Linked DNA regions of Homo sapiens: region 1 is linked to region 2. The links come from fine-mapping of genetic effects on gene expression. A gene starts in region 2. The other region holds a variant in brackets. All regions are shown on one strand. Distances are between the middles of the regions.

Region 1 (5,525 bases), 23 kb after region 2:
ACCACGCCCTGCTAATTTTTTTGTATTTTTAGTAGAGACTGGGTTTCACCATGCTGGCCAGGCTGGTCTTGAACTCCTGGCTTCAAGTGATGCGCCAGCCTCAGCCTCCCAAAGTGCTGGGGTTACAGGCATGAGCCACCGTGCCCAGCCCTTTTTACTATTTTTTTAAAGATGGGGTCTAGCTCTGTTGCCCAGGCTGGAGTGCAGTGGCGTGATCTCACTGCAACCTCTGCCTTCTGGGTTCAAGCAATTCTCCTGCCTCAGCCCCCCGAGTAGCTGGGGTTACAGGCATCTGCCATCATGCCCAGCTAATTTTTTTTGTATTCTTAGTAGAGATGGGGTTTCACCATGTCGGCCAGGTTGGTCTCAAACTCCTGACCTCAGGTGTCCCACCTGCCTCGGCCTCTCAAAGTGCTGGGATTACAGGCGTGAGCCACTGTACCCGGCCTACTTTTTAAATATGTCTATTAACTGACTTTAAACTACATATATGGCTCATATTTCTATTGAACAGTGCAACAGTCCCTTCCTCATACGATTTTATTGTAAACTCTGCCTGATACTGCTGCAAGGTAGGGCTCATGATACTTCTAATGTATACACATTATATATTTATTATCCTTTTTTTTTTTTTGAGACAGAGTCTCATTCTGTCTCCCAAGCTGGAGCGAAGTGGCATGATCACAGCTCACTGCAGCCTTGATCTCTTGAGCTCAAGCAATCCTCCCGCTTCAGCTTCCCAAGTAGCTGGGACTATAGGCATGCACCACCATGCCCAGCTGATTTTTTTTGTTTTTTTTAAAGTTGAGGCGAGGTCTTGCTATGTTGCCCAGGCTGGTCTCAAACCCCTGAGCTCAAGTAATCCACCCACCTTGGCCTCCCAAAATGCTGCGATTATAGGCATGAGCCACTGTGCCCAGCCTATTATTTAATATATTTCCTCCTCCTATGCAGTGGCTTTCTCTGTCTCTCTCTCTGTCTGTCTGTCTGTCTGTCTGTCTGTCTCTCTTTTTAAAGAGAAAGAGAATCTTCTTGTGTTGTCCAGCCTGGTCTTAAAGTCCTGGGCTCAAGTGATCCTTCTGCCTTGGGCTCCTTAGTAGCTGGGCCTAACAGGCACATGCCACCATGCCCAAATAGCTTTCTGGTCTCGAACCCAAATATACTTCTTTCCCATTACTGAACTGCCTAAGCATGGTGGAATCATGAATGGTATAAGATAAACTGCAGCTCTCCCTGGTGAAAATGGGCACAATTTGGGAGAGAGGCACAGTCTGAGACACCTGTGAAATGTGTTGATTTTCTGCAGCTACCTTTGGAATGCAGTCCTCAAGAGCTGTCTAATATCTGTCCTATCCAAGTCAAAGGAACTGATAGAATACAGGGAGATGTTACTCTGCCCACCAAGAGGACCTCGACCTAATTCTGCCAAAGTTCTTATTGTTTCATGAAACTGCTAACATGAAGCTGAGAACTACCATGTAAATACAAACAGGGTGTCAGGATTGGGACATGCCTTGACCTGATAGGTTTTGAGGATAATGTAAATATTTTCATTATGATATGATCAAATCAGATTAGAGTTGGTTAACAGGTAGCACTAGGCTATATACTTTTGAACAGACTCCTTTTGTATTACTGCTAAAGATTCTTTTTTTTTTTCTTTTTTGAGACGGAGTTTCGCTCTTGGGTGTCCAGGCTGGAGTGCAATGGTACAGTCTTGGCTTACTGCAGCCTCCACCTCCTGGTTTCAAGCGATTCTCCTGCCTCAGCCTCCTGAGTAGCTGGGATTACAGGAGCCCACCCCGACGCCCGGCTAATTTTTGAATTTTTAGTAGAGACGGGGTTTCATCATGTTGGCCAGGCTGGTCTTGGACTCCTGACCTCAGGTGATCCTCCCGCCTTGGCCTCCCAAAGTGCTGGGATTACAGGTGTGAGCCACAGCGCCCGGCCAAGATTCTTAATTTTAATGATTAGTAGACTAATTTACACACAATGGTAATTTTTAAAAAGTCATGTGATCTGCAGGCACATTAACATCTGAGCCTGTGGCCCACAAATAAACCTGAGATCACCTGGCTTGCAAGATACCTTTAGGTCTATGGGCAGAAGGTGCTCTGAATTAGTAATTTAGTGCAAGAGTACTTGAGCTTGCTTTCTGCATTTGTAGACACATGCTTAAAACATCAGAGTGGTTAGAACCCTTAGAAGCCATCTCTTGCTTTGTATGTGAAGACCTTGAGCATGAATGGGCCAATGTCAGGCCGGGTGTGGTGGCTCACGCCTGTAATTCCACCACTCTGAGTTGGGTGGATTGCTTGAGGCCAGGAGTTCGAGACTAGCCTGGTTAACATGGCAGAATCCCATCTCTGCTAAAAATACAAAAATTAGCCAGGTGTGGTGGCATGTGCCTGTAATCCTGGCTTCTTGGGAGGCTGAGGCACGAGAATTACTTGAACCCAGGAGGCGGAGGTTGTAGTGAGCTGAGATCGCACCACTGCACCAGCCTGTGCGACAGAGTGAGACTCTGTCTCCAAGAAAATAAAGAATAGGCCAATGTCAATGACAACTCTTAAGTGTGTGTGTGTGTGTGT[A/GTA]TGTATGCGTGTATACATACATATATTTGTGTGTGTGTGTGTGTGTATATGTATTGCTTGAATTGAATTGCTTGAACCCGAGAGGCGGTTTCAGTGAGCTGAGATCGCGCCACTGCACTCCAGCCTGGGCAACAAGAGCAAAACTCCAACTAAAAACAAAAAGTGTAGGCCCTGCACGGTGGCTCATACCTGTAATCCCGGCGCTTTGGGAGGCTGAGGCTGGCGCATCACTTGAAGCCAGGAGTTCAAGACCAGCCTGGCCAGCATGGTGAAACCCAGTCTCTACTAAAAATACGAAAAAATTAACTGGGCATGGTGGCAGGCACCTGTCATCCCAGCTACTCCAGAGGCTGAGGGAGGAGAATCGCTTGAACCTGGGAGGGAGAGGCTGCAGTGAGCCGAGACCGTGCCACTGCACTCCAGCCTGGGCAACAGGGTGAAACTCTCTCTCAAAAAAAAATGTAAATTCAGTTATCTTTAGTATAGTCACAAGATTAAAAAAAATTTTTTTTAATAGGGACAGCATCTCATTATGTTGCCCAGGCTGGTCTCAAACTCCTGTGCTCAAGCAGTCTTCATGCCTCAGCCTCCCAAAGTGCTGGGATTTCAGGCTTAAGCCACCACACCCAGCCTAGTCACAAGATTTTATAATTATCCCACTATCTAGAGATGGGGCCTAGAGATGAACATTTCTGTCATCACCCAAAGAGGCCTCGTACCATTTAATAGTCACTTCTCATCCCTTCTTTCTCTGTGGATTTGCCCATTCTGGACATTTCATATACATGGAATAATACGTGGGGTTTTGTCCGTTTTCTTTCACTTAGCATAATGTTCTCGAGGTCCACACGTTGTAGTACATGTCAGCACTTCATTTCTTTTTATGGCTGAATAATATTCCATTGTATAGATATACCAGATTTTATTTATTCATTAATCTGTTGGTGGCCATTTAGGTCGTTTCCACTTTTTGTCTATTATGAATCATGCTGATATAAACATACGTACAGGTTTTGACATGAACATATGTTTTCAGTTCTCTTGGGGATAGACCAAAGAGTGGAATTGCTGGGTCATATGGTAACTTTCTGTTTAATCATTTGGTGAACTAAGAAACAGTTTTCCAAGTCAGTTGTATCATTTTACACTCCCAGCAGCAGTGCGTGAGGTTTCCTTTATATCCTCCTCAATACTTACTATCTGACTTTTTGTCTTATAGCCATTCTAGTGGGTATGAAGTGGTACCTAATTGTGCTTTTGAGTTGAATTTGAGGTTGAGCACCTTTTTTAGTGCTTATTGGCTATTTGTAGATCTTGCGAGAAATTCAAATTCTTCCTGTTCAAATCCTTAGTCTATTTTTAAAAATTGAATTGTTTGTCTTTTTATTTGGTGCATTGTAAGCTATTAAGCATACTAAGGTAAATCTAATTTAGGGAAAGCATTCACTATTTCAGGAAGACCAGAGAGTTGCAGTTTGGCTTTATTATTATTATTATTATTATTATTATTATTATTATTATTGAGACGGAGTTTCACTCTTGTTGCCCAGGCTGGAGTGCAATGGTGAGATCTTGGCTCACTGCAACCTCCGCCTCCTGGTTTCAAGCGATTCTTCTGCCTCAGCCTCCCGAGTAGCTGGGATTATAGGCATGCACCACCATGCCCAGCTAATTTTGTATTTTTAGTAGAGACGGGGTTTCTCCATGTTGGTCAGGCTGGTCTCAAACTCCTGACCTCAGGTGATCCGCCCACCTCGGCCTCCCAAAGTGCTGCGATTATAGGCGTGAGCCACTGTGCCCAGTCTATTTTTAATCCTTTTCAGGCACTTATAAAGTTTTCGAAAAGAACGCTTGTTCACAGAATAATTATAAACAAGGACCTACCACCATCACTAATAAAGGTTATTAATCCAATCCCAAGAACCAAGAAAGAGGATCTAGGCCGGGCACGGTGGGTCATGCCTGTAATCCCAGCACTTTGAGAGGCTGAGGTGGGTGGATCACCTGAGGTCAGGAGTTCGAGACCAACCTGGCCAACATGGTGAAAACCCGTCTCCACTAAAAATACTAAAATCAGCGTGGCGTGGTGGTGCATGCCTGTAATCTCAGCTACTCCGGAAGCTGAGGCGGAAGAATCACTTGAACCCGGGAGGCAAATGTTGCAGTGAGCTGAGATTGCGCCACTGTACTCCAACCTGGGCGACAAGAGTGAAACTCTGCCAAAAAAAAAAAAAAAGAAAAGAATGGGGTCCAAATGAACTCTCTTGAAAGTCCTTGCTTCCATTCATGGCAGCACCTCCCTAGACCTCTCATTGCTGTGCCCAAGTGAGTGACCAAAGCAATCTGCTCTGAAAAGAAAGCAGCTTCTTAGGGTATGGCAAGTCACATCTTTTTGTCAAAACCACCAAGAGGAGAGAGTGATATAGGAAGTGTGGTGACTTGAAGGAAATGACTGGCCCCAGGGTCTAATGTTTTTTTAGAAGTTGGTTCAAGGAGGGTGGATCACTTGAGGTCAGGAGTTTGGGACCAACATGGTGAAACCTTGTCTCTACCAAAAGTACAAAAAATTAGCCGGGCATGGTGACTCATGCCTGTAATCCCAGCCACTTGGAAGCCTGAGGCAGGAGAATCACTTGAATCCAGTAAGCGGAGGTTGCAGTGAGCTGAGATTTCGCCACTGCACTCCAGGCTGGGCAACGGGGCAAGACTCTGTCTCAAAAAAAAAAAAAAAAGTTGGTTCCCAGTGTTACAGCTCTTAGAATTTGTCTAGCAGGCTTTCTGGTTTTTGCCAGAAAGCCCCAAAAAAGTTAAACAAAAAAGTCAGTTCCCCAAGTGAGGGCTGACAATGAGTCTGCTCATGGACAGAGCCATCAGGCCCTGGCTGATGCCAGGGCAGAGAGGGGCTGTCAGCAATGGCTCTTGGTGGAAGGAGTA
Region 2 (5,000 bases):
GAGTTTCTAAAAACGGATCTCAGATCCCATAGCATATACTGTACTGACTGAGCTATGACAACTCATCATATTCCACATACCTGCTACCACAGGTGAGATCCATGTCCCGAAGCTTAGAGAGAAGCCTCTCTAAGGAACTAGAGGCATAAAACTGCCAACCACACCTACCCCCACCATCTCTCGGTGGGCGAAGGGAAAATGGTATCTTTAATACCAAAAAGATAATTTAAAGGCTTTAGATCAGGGGTAAACTTTATTCATAAAGGGCCAGAGTAAATCTTTGAGGCTTTATGAACCACATATGGTTGAAAACATTGTTGGCCTCCTGGCACAGAAACAGAAAACTGCTGTGGAGGCTAAGAGATCACCTCATCCGTTTTATAGCTGATATCCCCTCAGGCTAAGGCCTGCCTTAGGAGGAAAGGCAGTAGAGCAAGCTTGTCCAACCGCAGTCCTGGGCAGCAAGCAGCCCAGGATGGCTTTGAATCCGACCCAACAAAAATTTGTAAACTTTCTAAAACGCTGAGGGTTTTTTTTGCCATTTTTTAAAGCTTATCAGCTATTGTAATGTTAGCGTATTTTATGTGTGGCCCAGGGAAGCTAAAAGATTGGACACCCCTGCAATAGAGCATAGTTTTAAGAGCATCACTTTAGTGCAAGACTCCACCATTCACTGCTGTATAATTTCTGGCAAATTACTTAATCTCTCTGTGCCCATTTCCTCATCTGCCAAATGAGGATACGTTAAAGGTGCTTGTGAGGTTTAACAGTTCATTTGTGTAGCTAAGAAGAGTATTTGAGGCCCAGAGCACCATGGCTTACGCCTGTAATCCCAGCACTTTGGGAGGCTGAGGCGCACAGATCATCTGAGGTCAGGAGTTCCAGACCAGCCTGGCCAACATGGTGAAACCTGTCTCTACTAAAAATACAAAAAATTAGCCAGGTGTGGTGTCCTGCACCTGTAATCCCAGCTACTCGGAGGCTGAGACAGGAGAATCGTTTGAACCCAGGAGGCACAGATGGCAGTGAGCCGAGATCACACCACTGCACTCCAGCCTGGGTGAGAGAGCAAGACTCCATCTCAAAAAATAAAAAATAAAAGCGTCCCTGACACATACTAATTACAATATAGTTAGTAGACTTTATTGTTGCTATGGGAGCAGAGGGCCAAGAACCAGCACTCGCCATAGCCCATGTCACCCACAAATGGTTAGATGCAGGAGTACCTGCAGCTACTTTCTTGTAGATAATGGAACAAAGGGGGAGCCCTGCTCTTTCACCAAAACCCGAGACCAGGCAAAACTTCAAGACTCATGCTGAGGAGGGGCGCTTCATGAACTTGAATATTAGTGGTCACACAGGATTCTACTCACAAAAATGTAATATCACAACAGTGCAGACCATAGGAAGTTTATTGTGTCTTTGAGACACTACAATGCAGACTCCTCTTCCAGAGAAAGGTCTTTCAGAGACAGGGAACCGTCATCCGGATGCGTTGCTCATTTGTCATTTTCATAGGCAGCTGGATTCTTCCTCTTGGATCTCTCGAACTCTTCAGTCCCCCATGTGTAGATAAGATAAAACACTACAAACTCTTTAAAAATTAAGAGAGTAAACAGAGAGCACACATATAAGACATATAGAAGAAAAAAAAAGGTCTCAGTCCTCTTGTCTTCTTTAAAGCATACACTTCAGTAGTTCTTAGCATATCCAAGGCCATGCAACTATCATCACTATCTGCTGCACGTTTAACACAAAGCATTTCACCACTGGTAAGAACTAAATAAAGGTGACCTCAGAGGAACATGCTGGAATCACCCGAGTGACCTTGGGCCAGTCATTTCAGTTCTGTAGCTCAGTTTTCCCCGTGTAAGATGGGGAGGATAATATGACCAGCTTAAGGGCGGTCAGGAATATTCAATGAGAAAGGTGTGTACGGCAAGTTACAGAGCGCCTGCCCGGCCGCCAGCGCTCAGAGGGGAGGCGCAGTGACTGCTGCTGCTGCTGGGGTCCAGCCTCCCGCTCCCGCGGGCCCAAGGCACTCACGCGGCACCACGCGAAAGAAAGACTCCCGAATGCGGCGCAGAACATTGGGGATTCCTTTAGTGAAGACGTGCGGATAGGCGCGCTGCTCGAACGGTGACAAGCTGTAGCTGATCACATGCCGCATCCGCGTCAGATTCCCAAACTCGCGGCCCATTGTGGCGGCGGCCCTGCAGGACCGAGGGTGGACAGGCGCTTGGCTCGCTTTCGCGAAGCGCCGCAGTCCCCGCGGGGGTCCATCCCCAACCCCAGACTCCTGCCCCTGCACTCCTTATCCTTTCCCAGCCCAGCGGGGCGCCCCTAGCCTCCCAGGGTCCACGAACACTGCACAACCAGACCCCACTCACGCACAGGGCTCAGCTCGCCCTCCACAGTCACCGATCCGGTTGACTCGTTCGTCATTTCCGGCAAGGTTGGAAGCCGCTCTTGGAGGTCGTGAGGTAACTTCCGGGAGATACCATTTTCCTACTGTCTCTAAGGGATGACGCCTTTGTCCCAGAAAGAAGTGGGCTGACTGGGTGACCCGTAGGTGGGAGGTGCCTTGGAGGCCCTGCCCGGGCCGGTGGGGTGGAGCCTAGCGGAGGACGTCGGGGATTGAACTGACTTTGGGGGACAGTGGACAGGCGGAGGCGCTCACACTTCTCCTCAGCCCTCGGCTTTTCTGTGGAATCCCAGTCAGGAAGCGGCCGAATGCGGGAGGCGGGGGAGGGAACAAAAAGGTGACGAGGAAGGGGCCTGCCGACCTCCGGGGCAGCGCTGGCCAGGAGCTTGGGGCCTGCGAGTCTTCCCAGCTGTAGACAGAGCGCCTCTGAGCCCCGAGGCCGGGCCGCCCCACAGCAGAGGAGCACGAGGTTTCATTTGGCCTTGGCCAGTAGCTCAAAGGGGGCTTCGTTATTTTCAGGCCATGAGCGACCCCAGCACCAAAATCAGGGACACACATCGAAGGCTTCTCTTGGACTCTGTTTTAGAGTCCCCTGGCAGGCTGTTAACGTTCCCAAGAGATAATACAAACGTTTCGTCAGTTTCAGCCACAAAAATAATCAAATAATCGTCAATTGATGAATGCTGAGGCCGCCTCGACAGCAGCCAGCGTCCTCCCCAGATGGTTTGCGTGGGGTGGGGGGAATCACGATGCCCCAGTTCTTTCTTCTCCCCACGTGAGAAGCAAGGAAAGTCGGGTGAGAGGCCTTATTATGTTTTCCCTGAAGTGCATTCTGCTTGACGATGCTGTTGTCAATGTACAGCTCGCCCTGAGGTGTCTTGTCAGTGTTTTGTTAATGGAATTGCTGGCCATATTTTATCTAGGACTAAGCTCTCATTCAACAGTTGGCTGTGTTTTATAACACTACTTACGGACCACGGAGGCTCGGCAGGCAGTCAACTTGTATTTTGCAGACATACCTTAGTTTTCTCATGTAGGTACTGCACAAACTGGCTTCGTATCTTGCACTATGAGTGTAGGCTGACTCTTCCAGCATAGTCTCCTTCGGGGTGGCGCTGAATATCCCCTCATTTCAGCTTTTCATGGTGCTCCTTTGCCTCATTTTTTTAAACCATAATGTCTAGCCTGGTCTCAGCTCCAAGGCAAGAACAGAAATACAGGTAAGGACAGAAATATTGTGGCAAATTCTACCACCATTTGGATGAATAATAATAAAACGTTCATTTATTTTATAGCATCTGCAAACATCCCAAAACCTTTCAACCAAAATATGTATAGATGAGTGTGCAGACCAAAGTAAGGACATCAGTATGTTACATTTAAAAATAAGTCAAGGTTAAAGGCGGTGTCCTCTTTTAAGAACATCGCAAATACAATTCCAGTACTCCAAGTACGTATTCTGTACCCAGCCACCTGGGAGGACTGAGAGACCTAATGGTTTTCTGCTTTCTGGAACTTCTATGCCAATTGTGACTTTCTCACCCAAATTTGTAAATTCGCAAATTAACATGCAGCGAATAATTACAATTGTAAACACCTGGAAGTGGAAAAGGCCGTGAGGATAAATTGAGAGGAAGAGTAAACCTAATACCATAAGTTGCATACCAGCAGATCTGAGTATCGTCATGAATAATTGGTTAGCTTTTCCACATGCCTTAGAAGTTTCAGCAAGCACCTAGCGAACATCTTAATCCAAATTTCTCAAAAAATGAGAGATTTTATTTAAGATCATTCCTCAATTTATCTTAGACTTTCAGCTACATAGTTAGTCCGGTAGTGTAACAGTAACGGGTTTTACGTAAATGCCAGGGGAAAAGAGAGGAAAGCTAAATAACCAAGTAAATCTGTATCTAATTAACAAATTGGCTAAATAAGGTGTTATCAGCTGCTTGATATAGAGCTGATAAAATCTTCAGCTAGGCATACTTGAGGCCTGATTACAGAAGTGACCGTAGTCCACCCACACACCTGAAATTTATTTAAGAGACCAAGCTAGGCTCTTCCTGGCCTTTAGGAAGAGGACTGGCATGGAGAAATATGTTCCTCACTAGTTCTCCCAAGCCATGGCACGTCCCAACAAATTCCTCCTTTGGTTTTGCTGCTTTGCCTGGCTGTGTTTTCCTATTAGCCTTGGTTCTCAGGCTTCTGGGGGAGAAGCTCAGATTGCTGCTAGTGCTGAGTTGGAATCTGGGGCTATGCCTTGGTCCTTGCTGCAGCATATAGATGAGAGAGACAGAGCTGGCCTCCTTCCCGCGCTTTTCAAAGTTCTATCTGTTGGGCGAGGTGGGTCACCTAGGCTGCAGCCAGACTCCAGAGCTTTGCACTACATGAAGAAGCTCTATAAGACATATGCTACCAAGGAAGGGATTCCTAAATCCAATAGAAGTCACCTCTACAACACTGTTCGGCTCTTCACCCCCTGTACCCGGCACAAGCAGGCTCCTGGAGACCAGGTAACAGGTATGTGAAAGCAGATTGGTTAACTGGGTGGAGGGAAGATGATAGACACTTCTGC

Direction of the effects. Positions count from the first base shown, and alleles are read on the strand shown. Sizes are in standard deviations (SD) of each study's normalised expression.
In carriers of allele GTA in region 1, the expression in prefrontal cortex of the gene that starts at base 2,613 in region 2 tends to be lower than with A alone (moderate effect, 0.43 SD a copy in BrainSeq).

What was found.
Region 1: its variant is fine-mapped to the expression of GDF9 in prefrontal cortex (BrainSeq, PIP 0.95).

What each region holds. Positions count from the first base shown.
Region 1 is chr5:132,841,115-132,846,639 of GRCh38, reverse strand. It overlaps LOC124901190 (U7 small nuclear RNA), which reads left to right and starts at 5,333; the gene lies at 5,333-5,392. It also overlaps the pseudogene RNU7-15P. The variant A/GTA (reference allele first, on the strand shown) is at 2,592.
Region 2 is chr5:132,864,082-132,869,081 of GRCh38, reverse strand. It overlaps GDF9 (growth differentiation factor 9), which reads left to right and starts at 2,613. Exons shown (of 2, transcript NM_005260.7): 1 at 2,613-4,945. The coding sequence starts at 4,549. It overlaps UQCRQ (ubiquinol-cytochrome c reductase complex III subunit VII), which reads right to left and starts at 2,440. Exons shown (of 3, transcript NM_014402.5): 1 at 2,395-2,440; 2 at 2,047-2,213; 3 at 235-1,594. The coding sequence starts at 2,200. The coding sequence ends at 1,500. RefSeq lists enhancers at 2,102-2,602, 2,603-3,103, 1,962-3,161.